Linked DNA regions of Homo sapiens: region 2 is linked to region 1. The links come from fine-mapping of genetic effects on gene expression. A gene starts in region 1. The other region holds a variant in brackets. All regions are shown on one strand. Distances are between the middles of the regions.

Region 1 (10,564 bases):
TAGACCAAGGGCTCTGCTCTGTGCCGCAGACATCCACACACATACATAGGTACACATGACATAGAATTCAATAGCTTGAAGAAATTGCCTATGATTCTTCAACTTGCTTACCTGGATCTGAATTCTTCCATAACATTTTAAATCAATCCAGGTGTACCCATCTTCAGAAATAATGGACCCCAATGTCTCAGAATTACAGAGTCAGAGTCCTCAACATGTCCAAAGCATTTCGTGGAAATTATTCCACCATGAAGACTAGAATGGCCTCTCTTCATGGATTCAGCTTGCTAAGGAGGCTTAGTTCAGAGGGACTAAGACACTCTCCTTTTAGCAAATAACTAACCAAAAGGGCAAGGAAGGGAGGTAAAAGACGTCATAACCAGGCCAGTAGAATCCCCTGGTCTGGCCATTACATGTGATGATTTCAAATGGGTTCTTAGTACCTTAATTTTGAGGGAAAAGAGTAGAGGAAACCAGCCAATGCTTTGCATGCTTAGTTTCTGCTGATGACACTGAACTCAGAGAACTGAGATCTTTGGAGAAACCAAAGATGGCTCAAATGACTCGTGATAATAAATGAACGTATTACTGCTCGCTGACAAATTGAAGTTTCCTAATTATAAAGCAGAACCAGTGGCCACCACCATAGAAAGCCTACCCCACAGATGGAGAAGAGGCAAAGCACTGAAACTCAGTCCGAGGGACCTCCCCAGCCATGGGGGCAGGGCCAAATGGGGCTTCTTCAGGACCAGCAAAGCCATTTTTCTCATCAGCAAACTAGCTTCAGAGAAGTTTGCAATCAGGGCACTCTCTTCCAAGCCTAGAGACCCAGGGAAAGGGGTACGGGGGTGTCCCAAGGCAAAGAGAATCTACACTTTTTGCCCCCGGAGAGGCTACTTCCCTCCCAAGATGCCTGGGATTTTCCACTTCAGCAGGGGGAAGGTAAGTCACATAGCAAAATAATGAGGGCACAGAACAGATGACCTCCCTATAGAGTTTTGAATGAGAAACACAGCAGGGCAGATGTGCCCCTTCTCTAGTCTAGGAGGAGCTAGGTCCAGCCCCTGAACATCCTCCCCCTCAGAAAAGCTGAGGCCAGACTAAGAATTCACCAGACCAAGGAGCTACAACAGGACATCAGAGCTGAGGCTGCAAAGCCAGGACTGAGACCAGACCAGGCAGGAAACTGTCAAGAGCTTTGGTCACCAGGCCTGGCTGCCCTCCAACATCAGCTGGCTCTTTCTAAATTGACACACCACATGTCCCTAAAATTCTCTCTTCAAGTAATACCACCATCAAAGCAGGACATTTCCCAGAGCCTTAGAGCCTGGTGTCTGCTCAGTGGGACTCAACCCCAGAAGAAGCTGTTAAATCACCCACTGTTTCAGTTTACAAACTTCTTACGACTTGGCAACAAGTGAAACTACATTCTGGCAGCAACTGCAAGTTCCCTAGTACCCAGGACTTCCCGTTTTTTCTTGCTGTACTCCCTCCTGTTAAATCACAGACTCATCCATCTCCAACCCCCAGAATATAGAGAAAGAGCACAACACTACATCTTAACTCCTGAGACGTGGAGAACACTTCTCCTCCTGAGAGCTTAAGTACCAAATGGAAGCTACTTTTCCCCCTTGGTCTCAAATGTATTACTAGATTCTGAACTGGACTCCACCATCACGTAAGAAAGCAGTCATGGGCAGTAATTCTGGGAGATCCAGATAGGACATGCCAGCCCCACACTGGTGGCATAGGAAGCCAAGTTGCTGCTTCCTCCCTGTGCACTCCCATTTGTCTGGCCTCTCTTGATCTCAGCTGGCGCTCACTTCACATCAGCTATGATGCAATCCAGCAACTAAAGTATTAGTTAATAAATGCTGACAGCACAGCCTTTTCTGGTCACGTATTCATACTAAAATACGGGGGAGAGTTGGGGGGAGAGGGGGATATATGGGAAATCTCTGTACCTTCCTCTCCATTTTGCTATGACCTAAAGCTGCCCTTTAAAAAATACAAGGGGCTGGGCACAGTGGTTCACGCCTGTAAACCCAGCACTTTGGGAGGCCGAGGCGCGTGGATCACCTGAGGTCAGGAGTTCAAGACCCGCCTGGCCAACATGGCAAAACCCCGTTTCTACTAAAAATACAAAAAGTAGCTGGGCGTGGTCGCATGCATCTGTAGTCCCAGCTACTCAGGAGGCTGAGGCAAGAGAATTGCTTGAACCTGGGAGGCGGCGGTTGAAGTGAGCCAAGATCATGCCATTGCCCTCCAGCCTGGGCAACAGAGCAAGACTCCTTCTCAAGAGAAAAAACAAAACAAAACAAGAAAAAACAAAGAATGAGCTCTCCACGCGAAAAATCCATTGAGATGCAAAGGAAGGAAGCTATCATTGTGGAATTGCACATGTCAGTTACATTAACGTTTTTGGAGCAAGGTAGAGCTCATCTCTCCCACAAGCAAATTCCAGCCCAAAGCATTGATACTAATAAAGTGCCATGCTGCGATGTGCAGGGGGCAGACAGTGTCTCCAAGCTCCCTACACACATGCCTTCCCACAGTTTGCCCTTTCTTGACCCCAGAAGCATCAGGCCCCTTCACCCTCGAGGGCCACTATCAGGAGTTTGAATTAATGGCAATCACCATGCACAGGGAAGGCTGTGGAATTCTGACATAAAAACACTTAGTGGAGGGCTTGGAAAAAGTCTAGTAGGAGCAAGACGCAAGCTGGACTAATTATCTAAAACAAGAGACCTGGTTTGGGGATCTTAATGTTCTCAAAAAAGAAAATTATTATTATTTTTCATTTTGCACTTTGTGCCATAAAACATTTTCAACAAAACATAGAATCTCATTTCTTTTGAGGGAAAATGATTGGGAGACCAGCTCATTGCTGGCACAGAGGCCTGGTTCATTCATAATTCCTTCATAGGCAAGACACCAGGTGAACCGATATAGCCGAGCTGGAAGAGCTCTCCAAGGCAGAGACTCTGAGCCAAGGAATGTTCAAAGAGCTAGCATGTATTGTGGGATTACTATGCGCCAGGAATTTTTTACACTGCATCACGTTCCATCTTCACAACAGCCCTAGAAAGGAAGAACTATTATTACCCCCGTTTTATAGGTGAATAAACAAGGGCACAGGTCCTTGATGTAACAGCCAGGATCAAACAGCTGGGAAGACGAGAAAACCTTTCCCAGGCTAGGATAACAGAGGATTTGGTTGAAAATACAGGCAATTAGGTGCTACCTCTGGGAAAAGGGGCCAGGAGAGGAAGGAGACACTTTTCCCTGCATGCCCTGATGTCCTATTTGAACATTTTATCATGAACACGAACTTCCTATTTAAAAAACACTTTTTATTGAAAAGATAAATCTGTGTGTTGTATTGTGTCACTCAGTTCAAGTACTTGAAATTTATTGAATTGTATTTTCTAAAAAATAGATAGTTGAGTAAAAGCAAGCTCACATTACATAGACGGATCACAGTGCACGGCTGCGGAGCTGGGAGCAGTGGCTTCGTTTCATGCAGGAAAGAGAACTTGGTTCAGGAGTGTCTACGTTGCTTAAGACAGGAGAGCACTAAAAATGAAACCATCCAGCCATCCTCCCCCATTTTCATTTTCACACCAAAGAATCCCACCGCGGCAGAGGACCACCGTCTCTGTTTAGACAATCGGTGAAGAATGGATGACCTCACTTTCCCCAACAGGCGGGTCCTGAAATGTTATGCACGAAACAAAACTTGAGTAAATGCCCAACAGAGGTCACTGTTTTATCGATCTTGAAGAGATCTCTTCTTAGCAAAGCAAAGAAACCGATTGTGAAGGTAACACCATGTTTGGTAAATAAGTGTTTTGGTGTTGTGCAAGGGTCTGGTTTCAGCCTGAAGCCATCTCAGAGCTGTCTGGGTCTCTGGAGACTGGAGGGACAACCTAGTCTAGAGCCCATTTGCATGAGACCAAGGATCCTCCTGCAAGAGACACCATCCTGAGGGAAGAGGGCTTCTGAACCAGCTTGACCCAATAAGAAATTCTTGGGTGCCGACGCGGAAGCAGATTCAGAGCCTAGAGCCGTGCCTGCGTCCGTAGTTTCCTTCTAGCTTCTTTTGATTTCAAATCAAGACTTACAGGGAGAGGGAGCGATAAACACAAACTCTGCAAGATGCCACAAGGTCCTCCTTTGACATCCCCAACAAAGAGGTGAGTAGTATTCTCCCCCTTTCTGCCCTGAACCAAGTGGGCTTCAGTAATTTCAGGGCTCCAGGAGACCTGGGGCCCATGCAGGTGCCCCAGTGAAACAGTGGTGAAGAGACTCAGTGGCAATGGGGAGAGCACTGGCAGCACAAGGCAAACCTCTGGCACAGAGAGCAAAGTCCTCACTGGGAGGATTCCCAAGGGGTCACTTGGGAGAGGGCAGGGCAGCAGCCAACCTCCTCTAAGTGGGCTGAAGCAGGTGAAGAAAGTGGCAGAAGCCACGCGGTGGCAAAAAGGAGTCACACACTCCACCTGGAGACGCCTTGAAGTAACTGCACGAAATTTGAGGATGGCCAGGCAGTTCTACAACAGCCGCTCACAGGGAGAGCCAGAACACAGAAGAACTCAGATGACTGGTAGTATTACCTTCTTCATAATCCCAGGCTTGGGGGGCTGCGATGGAGTCAGAGGAAACTCAGTTCAGAACATCTTTGGTTTTTACAAATACAAATTAACTGGAACGCTAAATTCTAGCCTGTTAATCTGGTCACTGAAAAAAAATTTTTTTTTTTTCAAAAAACATAGCTTTAGCTTATTTTTTTTCTCTTTGTAAAACTTCGTGCATGACTTCAGCTTTACTCTTTGTCAAGACATGCCAAAGTGCTGAGTCACTAATAAAAGAAAAAAAGAAAGTAAAGGAAGAGTGGTTCTGCTTCTTAGCGCTAGCCTCAATGACGACCTAAGCTGCACTTTTCCCCCTAGTTGTGTCTTGCCATGCTAAAGGACGTCACATTGCACAATCTTAATAAGGTTTCCAATCAGCCCCACCCGCTCTGGCCCCACCCTCACCCTCCAACAAAGATTTATCAAATGTGGGATTTTCCCATGAGTCTCAATATTAGAGTCTCAACCCCCAATAAATATAGGACTGGAGATGTCTGAGGCTCATTCTGCCCTCGAGCCCACCGGGAACGAAAGAGAAGCTCTATCTCCCCTCCAGGAGCCCAGCTATGAACTCCTTCTCCACAAGTAAGTGCAGGAAATCCTTAGCCCTGGAACTGCCAGCGGCGGTCGAGCCCTGTGTGAGGGAGGGGTGTGTGGCCCAGGGAGGGCTGGCGGGCGGCCAGCAGCAGAGGCAGGCTCCCAGCTGTGCTGTCAGCTCACCCCTGCGCTCGCTCCCCTCCGGCACAGGCGCCTTCGGTCCAGTTGCCTTCTCCCTGGGGCTGCTCCTGGTGTTGCCTGCTGCCTTCCCTGCCCCAGTACCCCCAGGAGAAGATTCCAAAGATGTAGCCGCCCCACACAGACAGCCACTCACCTCTTCAGAACGAATTGACAAACAAATTCGGTACATCCTCGACGGCATCTCAGCCCTGAGAAAGGAGGTGGGTAGGCTTGGCGATGGGGTTGAAGGGCCCGGTGCGCATGCGTTCCCCTTGCCCCTGCGTGTGGCCGGGGGCTGCCTGCATTAGGAGGTCTTTGCTGGGTTCTAGAGCACTGTAGATTTGAGGCCAACGGGGCCGACTAGACTGACTTCTGTATTTATCCTTTGCTGGTGTCAGGAAGTTCCTTTCCTTTCTGGAAAATGCAGAATGGGTCTGAAATCCATGCCCACCTTTGGCATGAGCTGAGGGTTATTGCTTCTCAGGGCTTCCTTTTCCCTTTCCAAAAAATTAGGTCTGTGAAGCTCCTTTTTGTCCCCCGGGCTTTGGAAGGACTAGAAAAGTGCCACCTGAAAGGCATGTTCAGCTTCTCAGAGCAGTTGCAGTACTTTTTGGTTATGTAAACTCAATGGCTAGGATTCCTCAAAGCCATTCCAGCTAAGATTCATACCTCAGAGCCCACCAAAGTGGCAAATCATAAATAGGTTAAAGCATCTCCCCACTTTCAATGCAAGGTATTTTGGTCCTGTTTGGTAGAAAGAAAAGAACACAGGAGGGGAGATTGGGAGCCCACACTCGAATTCTGGTTCTGCCAAACCAGCCTTGTGATCTTGGGTAAATTCCCTACCACCTCTGGACTCCATCAGTAAAATTGGGCGTGGACTAGGTGATCTCATAGATCCTTCCTGCTGGAACATTCTATGGCTTGAATTATATTCTCCTAATTATTGTCAAAATTGCTGTTATTAAGTATCTACTGTGTGCCAGGCACTTTAAATAAATATTGTGTCTAATCTTCAAAACAAATTTGCAAGGAAGGTTTTTGGAGATAAGGAAACTGAGACTCAGGATTAAGTAACACACCTAAAGTCACAGGTGAGCTTGGAACTGAACCCAAGTGTGCCCCCACTCCACTGGAATTTGCTTGCCAGGATGCCAATGAGTTGTAGCTTCATTTTTCTTAGAGACTTTCCTGGCTGTGGTTGAACAATGAAAAGGCCCTCTAGTGGTGTTTGTTTTAGGGACACTTAGGTGATAACAATTCTGGTATTCTTTCCCAGACATGTAACAAGAGTAACATGTGTGAAAGCAGCAAAGAGGCACTGGCAGAAAACAACCTGAACCTTCCAAAGATGGCTGAAAAAGATGGATGCTTCCAATCTGGATTCAATGAGGTACCAACTTGTCGCACTCACTTTTCACTATTCCTTAGGCAAAACTTCTCCCTCTTGCATGCAGTGCCTGTATACATATAGATCCAGGCAGCAACAAAAAGTGGGTAAATGTAAAGAATGTTATGTAAATTTCATGAGGAGGCCAACTTCAAGCTTTTTTAAAGGCAGTTTATTCTTGGACAGGTATGGCCAGAGATGGTGCCACTGTGGTGAGATTTTAACAACTGTCAAATGTTTAAAACTCCCACAGGTTTAATTAGTTCATCCTGGGAAAGGTACTCTCAGGGCCTTTTCCCTCTCTGGCTGCCCCTGGCAGGGTCCAGGTCTGCCCTCCCTCCCTGCCCAGCTCATTCTCCACAGTGAGATAACCTGCACTGTCTTCTGATTATTTTATAAAAGGAGGTTCCAGCCCAGCATTAACAAGGGCAAGAGTGCAGGAAGAACATCAAGGGGGACAATCAGAGAAGGATCCCCATTGCCACATTCTAGCATCTGTTGGGCTTTGGATAAAACTAATTACATGGGGCCTCTGATTGTCCAGTTATTTAAAATGGTGCTGTCCAATGTCCCAAAACATGCTGCCTAAGAGGTACTTGAAGTTCTCTAGAGGAGCAGAGGGAAAAGATGTCGAACTGTGGCAATTTTAACTTTTCAAATTGATTCTATCTCCTGGCGATAACCAATTTTCCCACCATCTTTCCTCTTAGGAGACTTGCCTGGTGAAAATCATCACTGGTCTTTTGGAGTTTGAGGTATACCTAGAGTACCTCCAGAACAGATTTGAGAGTAGTGAGGAACAAGCCAGAGCTGTGCAGATGAGTACAAAAGTCCTGATCCAGTTCCTGCAGAAAAAGGTGGGTGTGTCCTCATTCCCTCAACTTGGTGTGGGGGAAGACAGGCTCAAAGACAGTGTCCTGGACAACTCAGGGATGCAATGCCACTTCCAAAAGAGAAGGCTACACGTAAACAAAAGAGTCTGAGAAATAGTTTCTGATTGTTATTGTTAAATCTTTTTTTGTTTGTTTGGTTGGTTGGCTCTCTTCTGCAAAGGACATCAATAACTGTATTTTAAACTATATATTAACTGAGGTGGATTTTAACATCAATTTTTAATAGTGCAAGAGATTTAAAACCAAAGGCGGGGGGGCGGGCAGAAAAAAGTGCATCCAACTCCAGCCAGTGATCCACAGAAACAAAGACCAAGGAGCACAAAATGATTTTAAGATTTTAGTCATTGCCAAGTGACATTCTTCTCACTGTGGTTGTTTCAATTCTTTTTCCTACCTTTTACCAGAGAGTTAGTTCAGAGAAATGGTCAGAGACTCAAGGGTGGAAAGAGGTACCAAAGGCTTTGGCCACCAGTAGCTGGCTATTCAGACAGCAGGGAGTAGACTTGCTGGCTAGCATGTGGAGGAGCCAAAGCTCAATAAGAAGGGGCCTAGAATGAAACCCTTGGTGCTGATCCTGCCTCTGCCATTTCTACTTAAGCCAGGGTTTCTCATATGTTAACATGCATGGGAATTCCCTGGGCATCTTCTTGTGGTGTGGAGTCTGACTTAGCAAGCCTCGGGTGGGTTTGAGGGTCAAATTTCTACCAGGCTTATATCCCTGGTGATGCTGCAGAATTCCAGGACCACACTTGGAGGTTTAAGGCCTTCCACAAGTTACTTATCCCATATGGTGGGTCTATGGAAAGGTGTTTCCCAGTCCTCTTTACACCACCGGATCAGTGGTCTTTCAACAGATCCTAAAGGGATGGTGAGAGGGAAACTGGAGAAAAGTATCAGATTTAGAGGCCACTGAAGAACCCATATTAAAATGCCTTTAAGTATGGGCTCTTCATTCATATACTAAATATGAACTATGTGCCAGGCATTATTTCATATGACAGAATACAAACAAATAAGATAGTGATGCTGGTCAGGCTTGGTGGCTCATGCCTGTATTCCCTAAACTTTGGGAGCCTAAGGTGAGAACTCCTTGAACTCCTAAGGCCAGGAGTTCAAGACCAGCCTGGATAACATAGCAAGACCCCATCTCTACAAAAAACCAAAACCAAACAAACAAAAATGATAGTGGTGCTTCCCTCAGGATGCTTGTGGTCTAATGGGAGACAGAACAGCAAAGGGATGATTAGAAGTTGGTTGCTGTGAGCCAGGCACAGTGCTGATATAATCCCAGCGCTATGGGAGGCTGAGGTGGGTGGATCATTTGAGGCCAGGAGTTTAAGACCAGCCTGGTCAACATGGTAAAACCCCATCTCTACTTAAAAATACAAAAAAGTTAGCCAGGCATGGTGGCATACACCTGTAACCCAGCTACTCAGGAGGCTGAGGCACATGAATCACTTGAACCCAGGAGGCAGAGGTTGCTGTGCACCACTGCACTCCAGCCTGGGTGACAGAACGAGACCTTGACTCAAAAAAAAAAAAAAGAAGTTTGTTGCTATGGAAGGGTCCTACTCAGAGCAGGCACCCCAGTTAATCTCATTCACCCCACATTTCACATTTGAACATCATCCCATAGCCCAGAGCATCCCTCCACTGCAAAGGATTTATTCAACATTTAAACAATCCTTTTTACTTTCATTTTCCTTCAGGCAAAGAATCTAGATGCAATAACCACCCCTGACCCAACCACAAATGCCAGCCTGCTGACGAAGCTGCAGGCACAGAACCAGTGGCTGCAGGACATGACAACTCATCTCATTCTGCGCAGCTTTAAGGAGTTCCTGCAGTCCAGCCTGAGGGCTCTTCGGCAAATGTAGCATGGGCACCTCAGATTGTTGTTGTTAATGGGCATTCCTTCTTCTGGTCAGAAACCTGTCCACTGGGCACAGAACTTATGTTGTTCTCTATGGAGAACTAAAAGTATGAGCGTTAGGACACTATTTTAATTATTTTTAATTTATTAATATTTAAATATGTGAAGCTGAGTTAATTTATGTAAGTCATATTTATATTTTTAAGAAGTACCACTTGAAACATTTTATGTATTAGTTTTGAAATAATAATGGAAAGTGGCTATGCAGTTTGAATATCCTTTGTTTCAGAGCCAGATCATTTCTTGGAAAGTGTAGGCTTACCTCAAATAAATGGCTAACTTATACATATTTTTAAAGAAATATTTATATTGTATTTATATAATGTATAAATGGTTTTTATACCAATAAATGGCATTTTAAAAAATTCAGCAACTTTGAGTGTGTCACGTGAAGCTTAATATAAACAAGTTTCTTGTCACTGCCACCACCACGACCAAAAAAAGCTAATCAATCACTATATATAATACATATATATACTATATATAATAAATATATATACTATATATAATACATATATACACTATATATAATACATATATACTATATATACACATATATACTATATATACACATATATATTATGAATGTATATATATAGTATATATAGTATATATACTATGTATGTATATATATAGTATATATAGTATATATACTATGTATGTGTATATATAGTATATATAGTATATATAGTATATATACTATGTATGTATATATATAGTATATATAGTATATATACTGTGTATGTATATATATAGTATATATATACTATATATGCATACATAGTATATATGCATATATACTATATATACTATATATTTATATATACTATATACTATATATACTATATACTGTATATATACTATATATGTATGTATACGATATATATATATACTATATATGTACACACACACATATATATATACATATAAGCACCTACTACATGCCAGGCATCATTAAATGTGTTGCATCCATCACGTCATTTAACCCCAGCACTTG
Region 2 (10,564 bases), 53 kb before region 1:
GTAAATGTCACTAGTGACTAACTCCATCTATTTTTGGAAGGCCCTAGGGGGTTTTAGGGCTTTCCATGCAATAGATTAAATAGTAACATTCCTCTGAAAAGGAATGTGCAGCCTTGCTCCCTGGAGTGCTCACCTGCAACAGCTGTCATTAAGGGCCCAAAAGGCGAGTGGAGTTGATGGGGCCCACAGCGCACAAAGCTTCCATCTTCACCTCCACCAGCTCTCAGGGACCATAGAACATTGGCGTCTTTTAAGCCCATGAGTCAAGTGTGTCCCTTGTCTGCTAGGTTTCCCCAGGCCACTGTGGACATGTGACTGTGCCTTTTTAGCACCTGCTTCTTCTGTCATGAACTCCATGCATACCTGACTTAAGACAGCAGACCTCTCAGGTCAGATGCCCAGGTTCATTCCCATGAGCTTGCCCTGAGCCCTATCAAATCAATGTGTCTCCAAAGAAATATACCGCTGTCAAAATTTAGAAAGCTCGTTATTGTTAAAAAAAAAAAAAAATCACATTTGTATTATGCTGGTATTTGTTGGAGGAGGAGTGGACAAAACAGCAAAGAAATATGACCTGGCTGTGGTGTTTAAGTACTACCATGTTTAAAAGGACTTATACTTGGAACTTTGTTTTTTCCCATACCAGGTTGAAGGTGTTAGGTTAAAAATAAGTTTTTACAACGGTGGTTCATTATATGAATCTCTCTACTTTTGTGTAACTTCATGCTGGAAATTTTCCACGATAAATGGTTACAAAAAGAAAGATAAGTAACACAGCATTTCACATGCCACAGGATCCTTGCTGCTTTACTTCCCTTCTTCGGCTCCACTAAGACTCCTCAACTAGCAACCTCTGAAAGATGAGCTTCCAGCTGTGTTATGCCTTAACACCTGGAATCCCGGATGTTGCCACCGGAATCCCAACTCATTTCATTTCAGTTGCTTAGAAGCAGGGCTCAATTTTTTACATCTTAACATTTTACCAATACTTCCATAAAGGAACTCTGTCCTCACCATGATAGAAATTAAAGGTTCTATTAAAGTTTTTGTCTAAGAAGAAAATTACATATTAACAGGCATTCTGGTGTTATTTTTACCCTTTATTTAAAAGGTTAAGGTTCTAAGGACATTAAAAAATTGCAATAGTATTATTGGGAGTAAATTTCATTCCCATGTTTAGGAAACATGAATTAGCAAATGATGATGTCATAGTTGAATTTTGCAATACAATTAAGGATTTTATAACTACCTTAAGTCTAAACCACAATACATATAAGGCATGGAAAATAAATTCTATAAATGTCATTGTCACAAATAAAAAATCCATTGAACATTTACAAAGTTAATAATAATTCATAATGTGCTTATGAATAATCATGAAGGTGAAGTATATTAGCTTAAGAACTTCTTAAGAATTGTTATAAAAATTCCACATTCCATCTACACCACTTCTGGTTAGCAGGGGTATTCTACTCCTAATTAAAAACGCTTCTCTTAGCAGATGTTTTCTAATACACCCAAGGCCAGAACAAGTTGGCTTCCCCTTCCCTCCTGCCCTGTAGATGGAGACTGGCAAACACATGGATAGGACAGACAGCTGAGGACTGAATGCCAACCTTAACCAGAGCACTATCCCACCCCATTCCACAGCTTGGCCCTGACATCAAACCAGCTTCCTGGGCTCCAGATTAGAACAGCAAGCAAATTCCTCATGTTCCATTAAAGTGTCCTTAGATAATTCAAAAGAAAACCTTACAATCTGCTTGAAAATATGGGTCATTTTGAACTAATAGGATGACAGCCAGTCTGAATTCATGAAAACCCACTTTATACTTTTTTTTTTTTCCATAAGAAGTGCTGCTACACCCCTGGGCCCATCTGCAGACGAGCTGCCCTGCCCAAGCCTTTGGGGAAGCAGCCCCCTTTATACTTTAAGTAATTTATAGAAGTTTTTAAAAATATTTTTATTACTTTCAAAATCATGATGTAATTTAGGATAAGCTGGCAAAGTACTGTTTTATGGGTATTTCTTGCTTAGTGGCTAGGTACGAAAGACTTCCAAGGCAACCATTCATTAAGTTCTAAATTTTCTAAATACAACTTGGAAATCATTCATTCTTTGAGTTTTGTTTGTTTTTAAGCTTTTAATAAAATTATATTCCCACTCAAACGTAATAACAATGGTTCTCACCAGTTAGAATTGAGATTTACCACTGGCCACACTATCTTAATTAGGCTATGACCTCTTGTTGGAGCAGGAGTTGCAGGCAAGCCTTCAAAAAGGCCATGCTGCACCACCTGGGCTTTCTCAAGAAACTCTGCTCGGGAGGAGAGGACCTGGCAATCTGGATATGCAAATGCAGAGCAAAGCGTGACTCAAGGGCATCAGTGCAGCTTCCCAGAGGTGCCCAAGCAGAGCAGGGGTGCCATGTTGAGGATGAGTGCATGCTGTTATTTCAGCATACAAGTCAGTTCGGGTCGCATCACATCCATGTCCCTCTCTCACCCTCACACACACAGCAAGTGCACTTGCTCCATGTATCAGCCTTCTTTCTCTTGCCCACAGCTGTCCTGCAGAAGTTGATATATTGACCCACATTCCAGAATCCTGAGGAAGCCTAGCCCAACTTCTTGAAAGCCAGCACCAAAATACTCTTATTTGTATATTAAATGAGAGAATCAAAATTCCAGTATGCTTTGTCTGATGAAAAAGATGCAGGGAAGTGAAGCTCCATGTAAACAATTACCCAAGTTCAGAAAGGCATGATTTGGCCAAGCAGATATGAATCATTATAAAAGCAAGACTTCTAGTTTTACTTGAAGAGTTAAAGATGTGTGTTTATTTCCTCCAAACCTACTTAAAGGACATTACAAAAACAAATTTTAAGAAAAAATAACACTAAGCAGCCAAGGCAGTCTGCCTGTAGGACTCCAGCCACCAGAGTGGGCAGAGTGCAATACCAGCAAAAAACAGGATTAGGGGATAGGGTCAAACTGGAATGAGGAAACATGTCCACACACATCCACACCAATATTGCCCATGTTGTCAACCTTTTGGAGGCTCAGCTTCAGAATGCTTGGAAGGCAAGTTTCTGTCCTTTAGGCAAGAGATTAGACAACTCCCCTCAGGGGAAACTAAATATCAAAGGGAAACCTGCCTTTGCACATTTAAAGTTCTTCCAATGGAAAAAAATGGGAGACCTGCCAGATCACCCTTCAGAGAAGCCCAGCAGCTAATGAAATCCCCCTAAATAAGGCTTCCAATCAACATTTTAGTGCCTCTCCCTTAAAAATAAGTGACCAGTGCTGGGTGGGGTGGCACAAGCTGGTAATCCCAGCTACTAGGGAGGCTGAGGTGGGAACATTCCTTGAGCCCAGGAGTTTGAGTCCAGCCTGGGCAACAAAGTGAGACTCCCATCTGTAAAAAATAACTAAAAAACAAAAATAAATAAGTGGCCAAGATATTTGTGAAAAGCAACTCTCTTGAAGGAAACTAACAGAAATAAGAAATTCAGAAGAAATAAACAAGGAGATAAAAAAATGTTTTCAGGTAATATTAATGTCCTCAGAGAGATAGAAGATATATTCATGAAACAAGACATCATTTTTAAAAAGAGAGCTCTTGGGAATTCTAAATGTGATAGCAGAGATTAAAAGCTCAATGAAAGGGTTAAATAATAAACTTGAGGAAATCTCACAGGAAGTATAAGATAGAGACAAAGAGATTGAAAAGGGAAAGAAGATTTTTTTAAAAACAGGATCCATCCAGGAAGGCCAATACCCAGAAGGAGAGAATAAAGAAAACAGAATGAGAGAAAGAGAGAGAAATATAATCCTGATACACAATGCAGCTCAAATGTAGTTAGGGCTGACATAATTTAGCACATCATAGAATGTCGAGGTCTCAGCCAACAGTGGCAAAACCAGAAAACCAACAAAATTTACAATGCAGAGTCCTCAACAGGCTCAGGAACTGGCAGTTTCAGATAGTGCTTCTGAAACTGAAGGTTACGGTGAAAGAAACCAATCTAGGATGGGCTGGGTAAAAGCTGTGTGAGAAGCAATCAGAGCCTTCATTCCCCTCTCTGCTCCACATCACTGAGTATGTCCTCTTCCCCTCCCCCATACAAGATGGCAGGTTTATTCTTTGAAGGAATCCTTCCTGACCGGAGGTCAATTGGCACAGCGGTTGATTTGAGAACAGTAACACAAACCATAAAATGGTGAGACCCGCAGCCCTTCTTCCCCAGCTCTGTTTCCCCAATTGGCCATCAGAACAGTGACAGCATACTTGTAACCTTGGCAGGAGATTAGAAAGGTTTCTTTCTGAGGAATCTGACCAGTCCATGAAAAAAGGTCAGAAAATACTGAAGCAAAAAAGTTTCCTAAAACAAACAGTGCTTCCAGCTCACCCTACAGTGAAGCTCAAAGTCAACAAGCCTTGCCTGCAAGTTGAGAGCATCCAATCCACTTTTTAGTCCTCTAATCCTGAACAAACATCCAAGGGTGCCAGATGTCTAAGGAAAGCCCAGGGCAAGAAAACTGGAGAACAAAACAAATAGATAAAAGCAATTCGGAGGAAATAAAATACACAGTGACTAAAACTTTAAAAGTATCATGAATACCCTCAGGGAAATAAGAGACAATGACATACCTTTGAAACAAGAGTAGGAAACTATAAAAAGGAACCTAGGACCAGAAAATAGAATTGAGGCATTCTAGAAAGGTGAGTAAAATGACAGAGGGGAAAACAAAAACAAGAAAATGAAGATATTAGAGAACCAATCCAGGGGTCTGAATATCTGATTAACAAGAGTTTCCAAACAAGGGAGAAGAAAGCCAACGAGAGGAAATCGTCAGTAAAATTATTCAAGCAAATTTCTCAGAAGTGAAAGACTTAAGTTTCCAGATTTCCTGAAGGGGCCACTGAGGGCCCAGAATAATCCAGGCAGATTATTGTGAAATTTCACAACACTGGGGACTAAGGGAAGATCCTTTTTAACCTGATTACTGGAGGATGTTCTCCCCCAAAATAAGAGAGTAAACCAAAAAAGAAGAGATGAGGAATCCAACTTGGGAGAAAAATCTAGAGAATTCCAAGGTCCACAGTGAAGGAAAGACTCAAGATAGATGACAGCTCTGCAACAGCCTGGAGAGCATTCAACTCAGAAGAGGAAAGGGATCGGGGGTGGGGTGGGGAGTGGGCTATCCTAAGAGAAAAAAAGAAAGTGATAAACCATCCAATGTTGGTGTCTATTAGAAGGTGCGTCTGCTAGAAGAGGTACAAAGAAAATTAGGCAAATAGGAAAAAAGGCAACAATTTCAGGAAAAACTAGAAAAGGCAACCATAGTTCACAGTGCTCAACTGGAAATTGTATTTGCATAAAAAGTTAGGTAAATACAGAAGTTTAATCAAAAATTGTATTATCTTGGGAGGGTGGGGCATGGGAACAATAAGGAAGGATAGTATAAGAGTTGGATGTTCATCTATCATAACAGATGATTATGTCTAAAAGTCACCATTGCAAACAGTATATCTAGGCATATCATTTAGAAGTACTGAGATGTATATGCAAGAAGAAATGGCTAAAAGAATCAAAAGTAGTTGCCTCTAGGAAGAAGCAACGAAAGAGTGTGAAGAGTGATACAGGGAACCATTGTAATTTCTTTAATACTATTTAACAATACTTTTATTTTTATTTATTTATTTATTATTTTTATAGAAACAGGGTCTTGCCATCTTGCCCAGGCTGGTCTCAAACTCCTGGGCTCAAACAAGTCTCCTGCCTCAGCCTCCCGAAGTGTTGGGGTTACAGGCATGAGCCACTATGCCTGGCTTAACTTTTTCAAAAACTAAAATTAAAAAAAAAAAATTCTTTTAGAGACAAAGTCTCACTGTGTTGCCCAGGCTGAAGTACAGTGGAGTGATCACAGCTCACTGCAGCCTTGAACTCCTCGGCTCAAGCAATCCTTTTGCCTCAGCCTCCCAAGTAGCTAGGACTGCAGGCATGAGCCACCAAGCCCAGCTAATATATTTTTTATTTTTAGGGATGAGATCTCACTATGTTGCCCAGGTTGGTCACAAACTCCTGGCCTCAAGCAATCCTCCCACCTTAGCCTCCAGAGTCACTGGAATAACAGACATGAAGCACCATGCCTTTTTAAATGATGTGCATGTATACCTTTGATTAAAAT[G/GT]TTTTTTTTTTTTCAAAAAGAGACAATAAAACAAATATAAAGGATGTTAGTTCTTAACTAACTCAACTTATCAACTCCTCCAGATAAGGGGTCTTATTCCCCTTCTTCTCAGCATCTGGCACAGAGAGGCACTCAACAAATGTTTGCTGTTTAATTGATTGCTTTATTGATTAATTGAAACAAGCAGTCAAAAATATTCATAGGTTTCTTGAGCTACACTGATAGAAAATTCTAGGAAAAAAATTAATAGCTAACACTCTTTAAACATCTACTATTTGACATCCTCTGTTCTAAGTGCTGGGCATTTATCATATTGCTAAATCCTCAAAACAATCTCACGAGGAAGATACTGACATTGTTCCTGTTTTATCAACAAAGAAACTGAAGGACAATGAGGTTGTATAACTCATTCCAAGTCACACAGCCAGGAAGTATCAAAGCTGGGTCTAGGCCAGGTGCGGTGGCTCATGCTTGTAATCCCAGCACTTTGGGAGGCCGAGGTGGGTGGATTGCCTGAGCTCAGGAGTTTGAGACCAGCCTGGGCAATATGGTGATGCCTCATCTCTACTAAATTAGCCGGGCGTGGTGGTAGGTGCCTGTAATCCCAGCTACTCAGGAGGCTGAGGCAGGAGAATTGCTTGAACCCAGGAGGTGGAGGTTGCAGTGAGCCGAGAACACGCCACTAACACTCCAGCCTGGGCAACAGAGCGAGACTCTGTCTCACCAAAAAAACCAAAAACAAACAAAAAACAGCTAGGCCTAAACCCAGGCTGGCTGACTCTGAAGTCTCTACTCTTGACTGATGAGCTTTATAATCAAGAAGGAGGTGTCCTGTGGTCACGCCACAACTGGAATATTATGTTCTGTTTTGAACACACACACACACACACACACACACACACACTTCAGAAGTGGAATGTAATCACAGGAAGTTGAACAGGATGTGAGGAGATCAAAAACCATAACAGTGGGTGTGAGGAATGGTTTTTAGATGAAAACAGTCTAATCATGCTTGAAGAGGGCTGATAAAGAACAGGGATTGGATTTGTTTTTTATGACCCAAGTAGTAAAACCAGAATCAACAGTAGAGATTAGTTGGGGCTATATTTCAGTTTAAGGAAGAAATTTTCCACAGTTCCATAGGACATCAAGTGCTTTGGAAATAGTTTCATTACTGAAAATCATAAGCCCATCAACCTCCAGGCTCGGAAGAAACTAAGGAATTTCATCCAGTCACCCTCAGGATGCTTGGATCACCTTTATAGCACACTCCTAAAAGGTCTTCTCAAACATCCCAGGGACAAAGAATACACCAGAGATGGCACACTCTTTTCTTTTTTAATCAGAGTTACCTGTGCACATAGTTGAGTCAAATCTGTAAGATTCATTAAGAAAAGCAGAAGTCCTTCCCTAGAGGCACCCACTTTCAATTTTCTTTGGTAATTCTTTTAGAAAGATTTACCTCTGTATTTCTAAATAACATGCTTGTATTGCTATTTCTTTATTTTTCCGTGTTAGGTATTCTCCACTAACCACCCACAATGTTGGATGAAGATTTCATTATTTCATTCCGCATACACAATACACACACCCTCTCCATGTTCTTATTATTCCAACATAGTTTATGTACTGATTTGGGTTAGATCAGTATTTAGTGTTCACATTATTATAACTACATAAACACTATTCAGAGCTGAGTCATGGGGTAAATCATAATTATTTCTCCTCTTCTATACAACTCTTGTGTTTCCCTGAAATTAATTGAAGAACCTTACTTTTTGTTTTCACTTAGTTTTTCATGTATTTATCAGTAATTCAAACCCTCAATTTTCTGCCAAATGTCTGAATTTCCTCTCAAGACATTCAGACACATCGGATATTCAAGCCATTTCACCTCTTTGAAGAAGCCTCTCTCAGAGCCTCTGGGCCTATCCTAATGTGAACTGATTACCTCCAAGCCTGGTGCAGAGTTACCATCTGGGAATTTTCCTTTACCATTTCTGGAGATTCCCTTTACCCTTCTCCCACTTTGTGTATCTCCAGTCTTTTTCTCCTTTGGTTTTCTCCATTGTTTTAGTGGTGCCAGAGTGGCTTCCTGAGAAAGGCTGTGTGGGAGGTAAACTTTTTGAATCTTTTCAAGGCTAGATATGTCTTTATTCTACCATAACTTGATTCAAAATTGTATTCCAGCTTCTCTTGTTGCTACTGAGAAGTCTAGAGTCATTCTGGTAGCTGGTTCTTTGTATATGACCTGTCTTGTCTTCCTTGAAGCTTTTTTTTTTTTTTTTTTTTTTGAGACCAGGTTTCACTCTTGTTGCCCAGGCTGGAGTGTAATGGTGCGATCTCAGCTCACTGCAACATCTGCCTCCCAGGTTCAAGTGATTCTCCTGTCTCAGTCTCCCTAGTAGCTGGGATTACAGGCGCCCACGACCACGCCCGGCTAATTTTTGTATTTTTAGTAGGGACGGGGTTTCATCATATTGGTCAGGCTGGTCTCAAACTCCTGACCTTGGGTGATCCGCCCACCTCAGCCTCCCAAAGTGGTGGGACTACAAGCATGAGCCACCGCGCCTGGCCTCCTTGAAGATTTTAATATCTTCCTGAGTGTCCTGAAATTTCACAATGCTATGTTGGGTGTGGGTCTATTTTCTTGCATTGTGGTCGGCATTCAGCACCACATTCAGTTTCCAATTTCAGTCAGGAAACTCATGTCTTCTAGTTCTGGGAAATGTGCTTGAATTACTTTGTTGATGATTTCCTCCTTTCAGTTTTCTCTGTTTCCTCTTTTGAATACTCGTATTCAAATACTGTACTTCCTGTACTGATCCTCTAATTATTTTATCTTACTTATTTTCCCCTGTTTTCTGTCTCTTTTCTTTCTCTTCTAATTTCTGAGATGTTTCCTCAACATTACCTTCCAGCCATTCTATGGAAATATTCATTTTTGATGTCATTATTAATTTCCAAGAGCTTATTTTTGTTTTGTTAATTATGTTTTCTAGCATCCAATTTTCATTTTGCAGTTAAAATATTTTATTTTCTATCTATAAAAATATTAATAATTTTTTTCCTTGAAGGTTTCTTCTGCTTGCATAATCCTTTTTCCCCGCTCTGAGTTAGCTTTCTCCCATTGTTTATTTGAATGTTTTGGTCTTTATCTTTCATTTGAGGCTATTCTCAGTGGTCTGCTATTCCTTGATTGTCTACTCTTTAATAGAGGGATTAAAAAGCTGATTGGAAGCTCTGATCTTTGAATATGGCTGTCCAATTTTGGCTCCACGGAAGGTTAATCTAGCTGAGCTGTTTGCTGGGGGAACCTCCAACCTCAGAAACATCAAGTATTTCTTCTTGGGCTGGTCAGATATGGAAGGGTATGCTCTTCTGTTCTTCTGTTTGGAAACTGGAGTCCTGCATGACAGAGTCTAAGAGCTCAGGGTGTTTTGGAACAATACCTCGGCCACTGCCTTCACCTATGCTTGAATCCACAGTTCAAAGACTATGTTTTATCATTTCTAGAGAAAAAAACCTCCAGGCTTCTGCTAAGGTTAAAGTGAGGATGGAGCAATGTTCTAGCATCGCTGAATTGTTGGAAGGAGAGGCCCAGCACTCCAACTACTTCTCAACTTCTCTTTACTCTGTATCCATAGATACGTAGCTGGTGCCACCAATTCCAAAGTTTTTGAAAGATTCAAAGTTAAAATCAAGGATTTCACAACGTTTCCCACTACCAGCTTAACATTCACCTTGCCCAGATGTGTTAAGTTGGTTACCATTTGTCCATCACTTGCTACCTTCGAAATATTTTTGCTTGAGCTCCTGTCTCATTCTCCTATCCTTGTGGGTCTGTGCCACTTAAAAACAGTCTTTATTTTAGTTTGAGTGGTTTGGGGAGAGAGAAAGAACTAGAAAGGTATGTTCAATCTGCCACCTTTACTCCAAATCTCCCCCATTCCACTTGTGGGCAGCTATAAAAGAAAATTTCTTCATATTGGTGTAACGTCTTTGTGGGAAAACTGATCATGCTATCAAAATTTTAAATGCAAATAACTTTTAGTCCAGTAATTTTACTGCTAAAAATTATTCTGAAGATATATTCATAAAAGTGGATGAAGAAATATTCACTAAACATAAATACATAATATATAAATACATAATAAATGAAGTACATCAATACTTGAAGAAACAAACAGGAAATAGTCTGTGTCTATCAGTAGGAACGTGAATAAATAAATCACAGTACAGTTGTCCCTTGGTATCTGTGGGAGCTTGATTCCTGGACCCTGTCGGATGCCAAAATCCATGGATGCTCAAGCTCCTTATATAAAATTGTATAGAATTTGCATACAGCCTATACATATCCTCCCATATA

Evidence for each region.
Region 2: its variant is fine-mapped to the expression of IL6-AS1 in macrophages (Alasoo 2018, PIP 0.95).

What each region holds. Positions count from the first base shown.
Region 1 is chr7:22,722,063-22,732,626 of GRCh38, forward strand. It overlaps IL6-AS1 (IL6 antisense RNA 1), which reads right to left and starts at 5,558. Exons shown (of 2, transcript NR_131935.1): 1 at 5,506-5,558; 2 at 3,333-4,643. IL6 (interleukin 6) reads left to right here and starts at 5,138. Exons shown (of 5, transcript NM_000600.5): 1 at 5,138-5,219; 2 at 5,382-5,572; 3 at 6,631-6,744; 4 at 7,452-7,598; 5 at 9,344-9,936. The coding sequence starts at 5,201. The coding sequence ends at 9,511. RefSeq lists a silencer at 4,553-4,602 and an enhancer at 4,588-5,787.
Region 2 is chr7:22,669,026-22,679,589 of GRCh38, forward strand. No RefSeq gene overlaps it. Among named protein-coding and RNA genes, the nearest start is that of IL6, 53 kb to the right of the region's middle. RefSeq lists an enhancer at 1-417 and a silencer at 8,705-8,999. The variant G/GT (reference allele first, on the strand shown) is at 6,196.